Linked DNA regions of Homo sapiens: region 2 is linked to region 1. The links come from fine-mapping of genetic effects on gene expression. Tissue or cell type: whole blood. Region 1 holds a variant in brackets; the other region holds the start of a gene. All regions are shown on one strand. Distances are from middle to middle.

What was found. PIP is the estimated chance that this variant, and not a neighbour inherited with it, causes the effect.
Region 2: RALB starts here. The variant in region 1 is fine-mapped to the expression of RALB in whole blood (INTERVAL, PIP above 0.99).

Annotation. Positions count from the first base shown.
Region 1 is chr2:120,293,485-120,298,706 of GRCh38, forward strand. It overlaps RALB (RAS like proto-oncogene B), which reads left to right. Exons shown (of 5, transcript NM_002881.3): 5 at 1-1,226. Among named protein-coding and RNA genes, the nearest start is that of RALB, 43 kb to the left of the region's middle. The variant G/C (reference allele first, on the strand shown) is at 2,184.
Region 2 is chr2:120,250,247-120,255,468 of GRCh38, forward strand. It overlaps RALB (RAS like proto-oncogene B), which reads left to right and starts at 2,606. Exons shown (of 5, transcript NM_002881.3): 1 at 2,606-2,734. RefSeq lists a silencer at 2,299-2,888 and an enhancer at 3,389-3,658.

The DNA of each region.
Region 1 (5,222 bases):
TTCTCCCCTTCTTCCCTCCCAAAAGCTTAGCTATGTATAAAGTGCCACAGATAGGAAACAGCTGTTAATTACAAAGAGAAAGAATTGTCATAGCATCTTATTTTGTTCCTAGTTTTATAACATTACCATCCTTCGTTTTGAACTACAGATGTTGTAGTGGGTTTTGGAGGAGGGAGTGGAGTAAGATGCCCTCCCACTTTTATCAGTTTAGTAGTAGTACTGAGAAAAATCCCTTCAGCTCTAAGAACACTGAAAAATCCACCGATTTTTTGGGTAAGCTTCTTGGCAATACCCTGTGGATCTGAAACAGCTAAAAAAATGAATTTGAATTGCGCCAGATAGGTCAATACCAAGCTTCTGATTCCTCCTCACATATGAAAAGTGAAAGTTGTGAGTTGTTTTCCTCTTATTTAAACATTGGCCTATTATAATCTGTGTTGGTTATTTTTCTCCTGTAAGCATCCTGATTTTTCTGTAGGAACTTTTCTTTGGCAGACCAAGTGAAGACTCAGGAATGGTGTGCATTATAAATGACACACATTGCCACTTGTGTAGATATTTTTAAGTTCTTTGGCTAAGTCCTCTCCTAACTGCCTGTCCTCTGGTTAGGCCCCTCCCTCTCCACTAGTGGTGAATGCATGTGTCTGTCTGATCAGCATCACTGCACACGGAGGTCTAGTGAGCCTCTTGCTAAGTGTCACACACACTCTTCCCAAAGACGTGATGAGTTAAAGTTGTATTCTGAAATCATGAAGCCAGAGCCTGTGCCAGACCTTCTGCTACCTCTCATAGAATTGCTCTGTAATTCTAAATTTAAAATTAGAAGTAGAGAGAGATAAGCCATCGCCCCTTTGCCTCTGAGAATTGGCTGCTGTTTCTAATATAATTATTTTCTAAGATAGCCAGATAGTTAGAAAAAGATTTTCATTGATGACATATCTTTAAACTTTCTTGCATCAGTATTCTAAATTGAGCAAACTGAAAGATTTTCATCAGGAAAGGAGCACTGTGGGAAGAGCCCAGTATTCACATTTTTTCCCCATTTTTCAGAAGCGACATTTCATATATAGGTGCCAAAAGTGAATCGGGGTGCGGAGAGTGGGAACCTTTTGAATTTATGATTGTCACAGAGATGGTAGAAATTATGATCTGACTGGAAAACAATCCTGTATCCCCTCCCAAAGAATCATGGGCTTTTTTTTTGAATAAAAAAGCAGACAAATAGACTTTCTCGGGATTTCAGCCTTTTTATTTTATCCTTTTGTCATACATGTGAAATGCAAGTACTGAAGGAATGGCCAGTTATTCATTATTCTTGTCAGGCGTTCTTCAATATCTGACAAACTATTTCAATTAATACTTGAGTTGAGGCAAATAAAATGGTAAGTATTAACCGTCCTTTAAACTTCATCTTTCCTCCATCTCTTCTTAAAATTTAAAAAGTTGATGGTAATGACACTCTTGAATTTTTGAAACAAGCTTTTTGTTTTCATCCTAGTTTGCCATCCATTTGATACCAGTTCTAGTCAAGAGTGGGTAAGTTTGAGCCGATCACAGTGGCTCACGCCTGTAATTCCAGCACTTTGAGAGGCTGAGGTGGGCAGATCACCTGAGGTCAGGAGTTCGTGACCAGCCTGAGGGAAACCCCATCTCTACTAAAAATATACAAAAATTAGCCGGGCATGGTGGCGGGCGCCTGTCATCCCACCTACTTGGGAGGCTGAGGCAGGAGAATCGCTTGAACCCCGGAGACAGAGGTTGCAGTGAGCCGAGGTTGCACCATTGCACTCCAGCCTGGGCAACAAGACTCTGTCTCCAAAAAAAAAAAAAAAAAAAAAAAGGTAAATTTGGAATATGTACAAATGAATTAAAGATGTTATGACTTGTTTCATGCTATAGAAATTATACTTGATATATTCTATTAGTATATTTCTAAAATTTAATTGGATAGCCATTAGAAATGGATCTTCTAACAAAATAACTTATGAGATTCTTAGCTATTGAAAAATAATGAAGCCATGCTGCTTATAGATTTGAAACACAGTCACTAAATGTTTAGATGTTATGTCCATAGCTTAGTGCTATTTTAAAAAATATTTATTTTAGAATTATTTGAGCACCTACTTGGTGTCGAGCTCTATTCTAGGTGCTGGGGATGTGGTGTTGAACAAGATAGGCAAGAT[G/C]TCCACTCTCCTGGAGCTTAAGCTTTAGTAAGGAAAGAGAAATGAAAACATCAGGATAACTGCTTTGATGAAAATTGGGTAATATGACAGAAAATGTCTCTAAGGTATAGAGCTGATTTAGATTGGGTGGCCAACAGGCTTCTCCGAGAGAGTGATGTGTAAACTGAGACTTGGTGACCAGAAGCAGCCAGCGCTGTGAGGAATGGGTGGGCTGGGTGCAGGAGCTTTCCAGACTAGGAGACAGTTAGTCCCAGGATCCTGGAGTGTTCAGGAAGAAACTAACAACCAGGATACGGCTGGAGTACAAGGGAGCAGAGCAGAGTATTAGAAATAGATGTAACAATCTGATTTCATCAAATAATGTGGGGAAAAGTATGTTGACATAATTTTCTGCAAGTGCCCTATTAAATCTAAGGCACCCTGATTACAAGATAACATAAACAATTTATGTACCACTAGGAACCCTACCAATTAAATGAATTCATCTTGATTCCAATGACATAAAAATGTAGGAGAAAATGTGTCTTTTAGATTAGGTCAATTTTGGCATATAATTTAAATGACAACTGAAATACAAAACTCACCTCTGTTGGTCTATGAGCTACTTTCTAATAAAGCACCATAGAAGCTTAACAGTGTTTGAAAAGTACTAATATGTTAATGTTATAGCAGTAAACTTGACCTCGATATTTTCATTTTAAAAGTTTATTATTATTACTATTTTTTGAGATGGAGTCTCGCTCTGTCGCCCAGACTGGAGTGCAGTGGCACGATCTCAGCTCACTGCAAGCTCCGCCTCCTGGGTTCATGCCATTCTCCCGCCTCAGCCTCCCAAGTAGCTGGGAGTACAGGTGCCCGCCACCATGCCTGGCTAATTTTGTTTTTGTATTTTTTTTTAGTAGAGACGGGGTTTCACTGTGTTAGCCAGGATGGTCTTGATCTCCTGACCTCATGATCCGCCTGCCTTGGCCTCCAGAAGTTCTGGGATTACAGGCATGAGCCACCACGCCTGGCCAAAATTATTATTTTATGTTTGTTTGAGATGGAGTTTTGCTCTTGTTGCCAAGGCTGGAGTGCAATGGTGTGATCTTGGCTCACTGCAACCTCTGCCTCCCGGGTTCAAGCAGTTCTCCTGCCACAGCCTCCCAAGTAGCTGGGATTACAGGCATGCGCCACCACACCTGGCTAATTTTGTATTTTTAGTAGAGGCAGGGTTTCACCATGTTGGTCAGGCTGGTCTCGAACTCCTGACCTCAGGTGATCCGCCTACCTTGGCCTCCCAAAGTGCCAGGATTACAGGCATGAGCCACCACACCCGGCCTAAAATTATGTTATCAAAATTCTAACTGCATGGGCTTTAAAGTCCAGTGGCCTGGAAGTTGTTGTGATGGAAGGTCTTCAGTTTCACTCTTCCCTGCTCCAGCTTCAAAGCTCACATCTAACCCTTCCTACTCTCAGCTCATTCATTGGGTACTCCTGTATTTCTAAATAATCATCTTATGCCATTATTTCTTTTCAACCTCAGACCTTTCCAGTAAGGATTTGACATAACAGACAAGGATTTAGCTCACCTGTTCCCCTCACCCCCAGTTATGACCGTCAGCAGTAATTTCAGTTTTAATTCGTTTCTTGGTGACTGCTATACCTTTAAAACTGTATATTTAAACTTCTGTTTTCTTATTTGGTCAACTCTCAAAAGCGCTGTGTGGTTCTCCACTTGGAAGGGTGAGGGTGTGAGCAGTCCTGCCACCATCTCTTGACCCTGTCTCCTTCCCAGCTCTTGTCAGTTCTTTCTTCTTTATTTACATTATCAGGATGGATGACATGGACATTCCATTCTGTGAGCATAATTCAGGCGTTGGTGCTTCTCTGTACATTAATTCTGAAAGTTGAACACCAATCGCAGATGATACGGTTATTCTCACTTATGTGAACCTGGCTCACTGTCGAGCTGAGCACCATGCAGCAATCATGTCTTTTACCGTGCCGTGCAGGCTGCCACTTGAAGGAGCATTCCTAGTGTCTGGTCCAGCGGACTGTTGTCAGCTGCCTGGATCACGCCATGTGTGGGCTTCAGCTTTGGTTATTTCCTATGCAGTGCCCCTTCACCCCCTCGCCATTTTTCCTGATGTTGGGTTGCTTTTTTTCTTGAGAGAACACTCATGTGCTCTCTTCCCCCTCATGCCAGTTTCTTCCTCTATCGCTTGGAATCTGCTTCCATTCTTCTGAAGATTATTCTGCTTAGAGCTCATGGATCGCGCGATCTCATTTGGACTGGTTACTTTGTAGGAGGTGAGATTTGTATTGGACACTTGGATCAGTTCCACACTTTTCTGAATTTCACGTCTTCCTTTCTTGGTTTTCATCCTCGTTTTGCTGGAGTGCATTTTCGGGAAGGACGTGATGGAGAGCTTTCAGAGCCCCTCGGCATGTATGACAGTATGGGTACTTTTGCCCTTTATTTGATTGCTAGTTCAGCTTGGAGTAAAATTCTGGGTTCAAAATTGTTTTCCCTGGGAATGTGGAAGGCTTGGCTCAGAGTTCAGGAGGGTGCATCATCACTGATCAAATTGGTGCAGCCCTCCCTGGTTGTCCCTTTGCAGTGGGGGCCCTGGCTTTTCCCTCTCTCCCGTTATCGGGGCCTTCTCCTTATCTGCAGGGTCTGAAATGAACACAGCTGTGGATCTTAAGTGTGGCTGTTTTGTGACTCATCCTGCTTGGTAGTCGGCAGAGGCTTCCAATGAAGACTCCTGCCTCTTCAGCTCTAGAAAAAGTATTTTTGAAATTCTTTGATCGCTTCTGTTTTCTCCTTCCAGAGCTCCTGTTACCACCTTTGGAACCTCCTAGATTCATGTCTGCTCCATCCATTTCCTATATTTTCCATCTTTATTTTCTCTCAAATTTATCCTCCCTCCCTGTGTTTTTCCAAGCACTTTGCCAAGCACTGTTGTAAGTTCTTGAGATAGAGCAGTGAGCAAAACAGACAAATTCCTTGCCCTTTGGAAGCTTACACTAGTGGGATCAACTTTGTCTTCTCAC
Region 2 (5,222 bases), 43 kb before region 1:
GGGCTTATTTCTCAGTCATTCTAAATGTCCATCACAGGTTGGTAGGGGGCCTGTGCTCATTGTAGAAACCCTGGCTGATGGAGCAGTCACATTTCCTAACATTCTCAGTAGCCATACCAAGGACAAGAGAGCTCTGGAGGGTCTTATATTGGCAATTAATTTCTCCAGCCTAGAAATGATTATGTGTCATTTCTGCTCACAAGTGATCGGTTAGAGCTAGTCACATGGCTCCACCCAACTACAGGGCTAGGAAGTTTCCAGTGCTCACAAGAGAGGAGTAGAAATGTTTGTCAGACAGCACTAAAGACTCCCACAGTAATCAATAAATACTTTAGAAGGATGGAGTGTCTAGAATGCTCTTTCCATGGCAGCAGTCGTTTACAGCATCCTTAAGGAGTCCTGCTGGGGATCTTGTATTTCTGCTGCTCAAGCCCCTGGCTCTGCTGGGAGTCAGAGTTCTGGTAGGGAAACTCAGCAGACAAGAGGTCCCCTGAGACCTGGAATGAGCCACCTTAGAGGCAGCTGAGGCTGGTGGCCTCTTGGTTCCCTTCTCCCGTTGGGACACGTTTCCCCTATTGGTGTCCTGTGTGAGACAGCCCCGCCAAAAGGGTCCTGCCACTCCTCTCTGAATATACTGCACAGCTCAGGGTCTGGCATGTCCAGGATCTGAATAGATGATCCTGCTGGAGGAGTCCCAGTAGGACCCCTCCGAGTTCTAGGCAGGCAGAGAATGAAAGCAGCATTTCTCAGAAAGCCCTGTGCATCCTGTTACCAATGCAAAGGAATGGCACTTCAGCACCCCAGAAAAGGTGGGGAAACCTCCTGCATCTGCTGTGGGTCCTAGGGGATGGGGGGCAGGTGGGAACAGTAGAATCCTGGCCTGTGGCCTGATTTCTGACCCTGTTCCCTCAACTATCATACCCTTTTCACTTGGGTAGGCTGCTGCAGCTGCTCTCCTCTCTATACTTGCATTTGACAAAGGGTACCACCACAGCAGGCCCTTTCCACCAGGCTGCACGCGGTCACACTTGATACAGATGGGCTTTGGGAGATAAGGCTGTACCAGATTGGTGATCACACACTTGACTGTACATCGTGGCCTCTGGTGGCAATCACTAATGTAAGCTCACATTCCTGAGGCACTCACCAAGTTCCTAGCACTGTACTGAGAGCTCTATGTGGACTTGCATGTACATCTTCTTACCTATAGCATGGAGGTGCTGCTATTGGGCAGCTGGTGAAACTAAAGCCCACAGAAGTAGTTTCCTAATTAAGTAACTGCTAGTCACAAGGTAGAGCCCTCCTTTAATCCTATGCTTCCAGACTCCAAACCTGTGCACTTAACTGTTACTCCGTAAGAAAAGGTTTGGGTCTGATTCCTCTTCTAGGTTATAAATACTAGGGAGCTTCCTCTTTGAGAAGCCTCCTACCCCATCTCCTTACTGTACCTAGCAAAGTGTCTGTCATACGATTAGCACTCAATAAAAGTTTTAAATGTGAATGAGAATGGTAAAAACAGAATACTTAGTAGGCTAACACTAGGATATTCTTCTGATTGCACTTTTTTGTTAAGTTGGTCACTTAAGACTAAGGTAAAGCTTCTGTGCTTTTTGATATAGATGCTGATGGAGGGACTGGATCTGGTAGATACATAGCAATCTAATCATGGCCCAAAGCCTCCAATATAGTATACACATGCATCCTAACTTACAATGATCAACAATGAAAGAATTAATTACACTGTGCTAGCAGCCATGGATATCACATTGCATAAGAGATAGTTCCCTCCCTTAGAGATAAGAGGCAGACGTTTAAACTGTCAGTTGCGATGGCTTGTGACTCTCATGAGGTCTGCGTAGGGGTCAGCACGGTCACAAAACCTGTGGAGGAGGAGGTGGTTAGGAAGGAAAATCCACCGAGATGAAGCTGTACTGGATACAAAATCACACGTTCCTGGGCTTTGGCAGGGAGCTTGCCCACTGCACTTCCTGCCTCGAGGCTATGGCTGGGGTGGGATTCTGGCCCTTGTAGGCGGCCTGGGTCCAGTCTCCGCCATGCACTCACTAACTCCATTACTGCTAATGGGATGTCATCAGCGAAGCGAGTGGTGGCGGCAGGTGGAGTCCCGCCCCAAGACCCCCGGGCGGCATCCCCATCGCCGCGCTCCAGCACTCTTCGCCACCTCGTAATTTTCTTCTGTTTCTGTATGATCAGGTCTGTCCTTCGCTTTTGCTTTCCATTACTTCGTCCTAGCCCTGGCCTGAATCCCACAACTGGCGCCCCACCTTGTGCACCCGCACCCGCCCTCAATACCGGCGGGCAGCTCCTCCACTGCCGCAGGGTTACCAGCTGCGTGTCCGAGGGGCAGAGAGAGAAACAGAGGGGGACGGGGCAGGCGCGCTGGGCCCGCCCCCCCGTGCCTGGGGCAGCTTCTCATTGGTGAAACCTCCTCCCCGGCCGCCCGCTGCTTGGAAAATCAGCCTCGGATTGGCTGACAGCCCCCCGACGGGCGTGGCTTCCGAGGAGAGGGCAAGAACGGAAGCGAGGGCGCGCTCTCGAGAGGAGGGGTTGCCTAGGCGACGCCGGAGGCGCGCTCGGGGGGTGGGAAAGCGAGCCCGGCAGCTCAATGACAAATCGGTGGAGGACGGCTGGGGTCCGGCCCCGGGAGGGGGCGGGGCGCGTTTAAGAGCTGCGGGCCGGGTGCGGACGGCGGAGGCGGCGGGACTGGTCCCTGGTAAGGGCGCGGCGCCCGCGGGCCCCGGGCGGGGTGGGGCGCGGGCTGGGGAGTGGGGTACGCCGCACGCCCGCAGCCTCTTGCTCCCTCCGTGCCGGGCTGTGGCCGGGCGGCGGCAGGACATGTCGCGCCCCGAGGCCGGCGGAGGGCGACGCCCCGGCAGCGGCCCCGCTCCGCTCCGGGAGGACTCCCTGGGGGAGTCTCGGCTTCCTGGGCTGCCTGGGGCTGAGGAAGTGGGGGCGGCCTCCGCCTCTCCCTTGTAGCCGCGGTTCCTTCCCTATCCCGCAGATGGCTCTGCTTCCACTTCCTGCCGCGGGCCTCCCGCTCGGGACCGTCCACTTCCTCAGTCCTCCGGCCGCGGCTTGGGCAGGGTCAGGGCTGGGAAGTGTTGCAAAAACTTAACTGCCCTCGGAACTTGCACGCGCCGTGAACTGGGCGGTGTTCCTAAAGGGCTTCGGTTTGCTGGTTTTGTTTTGGTCCTGTCTTGCAAATGAGCATAAAGTTGTTTCTCCCCCAGCCTCCTCCCCTTTCCTTTCTGATAGGGGCCAGCGGCGAAGGGGCTTCTAAGGGGAAGCGCCTGGACTGGGCATCGCCGTCCCGGTTCTTGCCGCCTGTGGGAGTGTGAGGTTAACCGTGCTCGGTGCAGGGTTGCGGGGCGCGGAGCTTGCTGCGTCCACACTGCTTGTGTGAGCAGTGTCCTCTCTGTGCTCATTTCCAACGAGAAACGTTGGAACTTTGGTGTTCTTATCAGGTGAGTCTTCGGGAGAGAAGTGCTTGTGCCTGGCGGACTGAATGAATTGGCCGTGGAAGAGACTTGGCTGATTGCTCATCTGGGTTACCTGTGACTCATCTTCAGCCCTTGTAGAACAGTGCACTTTCTGCTCTGTCCTGGTTTCCTAACCTCATTTCTTCTGAAGTTTTGGGGATGGATGGTGGGCATGGAGTATCAGAGGGGATAGTGAATCTTTTAGAGGTGTCAATGACTGATGTTCCAAGCAGAGCCATAAGATTGTTGGATGTCAAAGCTCAGAACCGGTCAAGGCTCAGAATGCTCCTTAAACCTGGAGCAATAGAAGCACAGTATCGAAGTTCCCAGAAATGGGCCGACCATGAAAGGTAGCACTGCATATTGGGAAAAACAGGAGGGGTGAGTTTGAAGACCTGGGTTTGATGCAGGTTCTGAGAGTTTACCGGTGTTGTGATGTGGAGCACGATCTTTCCCCCTCTGAGCTCCAGAGTCAGCAACTGTAGAAGGGTGATGATAGTTATCCTAATTGTTAGGATTAAACGAAATAGGAGCGGGGGAGAAGAAGGCCAGGGAGACATATCCTTTGTGCGTGGCTTTAGTTGTCAGCCGGTCTGCTTTATTCTGACCACATCTGGGGCTTTCCTTCCTTGCCCATTCACATTGCTTCCCATTGGAAACAGCACTCTTATCGGAGATCTCAGCCAGATTTCCCTCTGCCCGAGGAATAGAACATTTTCCCAGGATTGTGTGTGGAAAATAGTGTAAGTTATTAGATATCTTTTGGGAACTTGGGACCTAGACCATAAGGATAAACAGGATTTAGAGTCTTCCACGGCATATGAAGAGATTTTGGTAGAAGATGAGGGTAGAAAAGTTCTAAATTCTTGCCTTGACTGAAGATGGCTTGAGATTCCATGAAAAATTTTAAGCCTGAGAATTGAGATAATCCTTTTTTTGTTTGTTTTTGGGGGCAGAGTCTTGCGCTATTTCCCAGGCTGGAGTGGAGTGGTGTGATCACCGCTCACTGCAGCCCCCACCTCCCAGGCTCAGGTGAGTCTCCCACCTCAGCCTCCCGAGTAGCTTGGTACAGTCTTGCACCACCATGCCAAGCTAATTTTTGTATTTTTTGTAGAGATGGGGTTTCACCATGTTGCCCAGGCTGGTCTCGAACTGCTGGGCTCAAGCCATCCTACCACCTTGGCCTCTCAAAGTGCTGGGGATCACAGGTGTGAGCCACCCCGTCTGGCAGGGATAATTCTTTCTTCCAAATCACGTAATCCTACTATGCCTCTTTGCATTTAGTTGCTAAATTCTTACCCCCCTCATGTAACTTATGGAAGTTAGAAACATCATTAGAGACCTTTCTTGAAAGCTAAATTTGGAGACAATGTAAGACTAGAGTGCGAAGAGATCTAGGTGAACTCTGTAGTTTTCCAGTGTAACTTGTCTCCAGATGGTATACAGGAGTCCCACTTTTCCTTGGCTCCAGTTACTGCTAAACAGCCCCTGCTCTAGACATGCAAGACGCTTGGTTTTTTTTTCGTTTTGTTTTTTTAAATGAATGTATGTTCTGAATGTTATCGCAAAGAGAGCCGAGCACAGAGGAAAAGGAACTCTTCCTTCATCACATGGCGGAGTAGTTAAGGAGGAGAAAAACTAACAGTTACTGAGCATCAGCTGTCTGCTTGGCACAGACCACTGATCCAAGCCATACCAGTTAAATATGTGGCCTTGGAGATT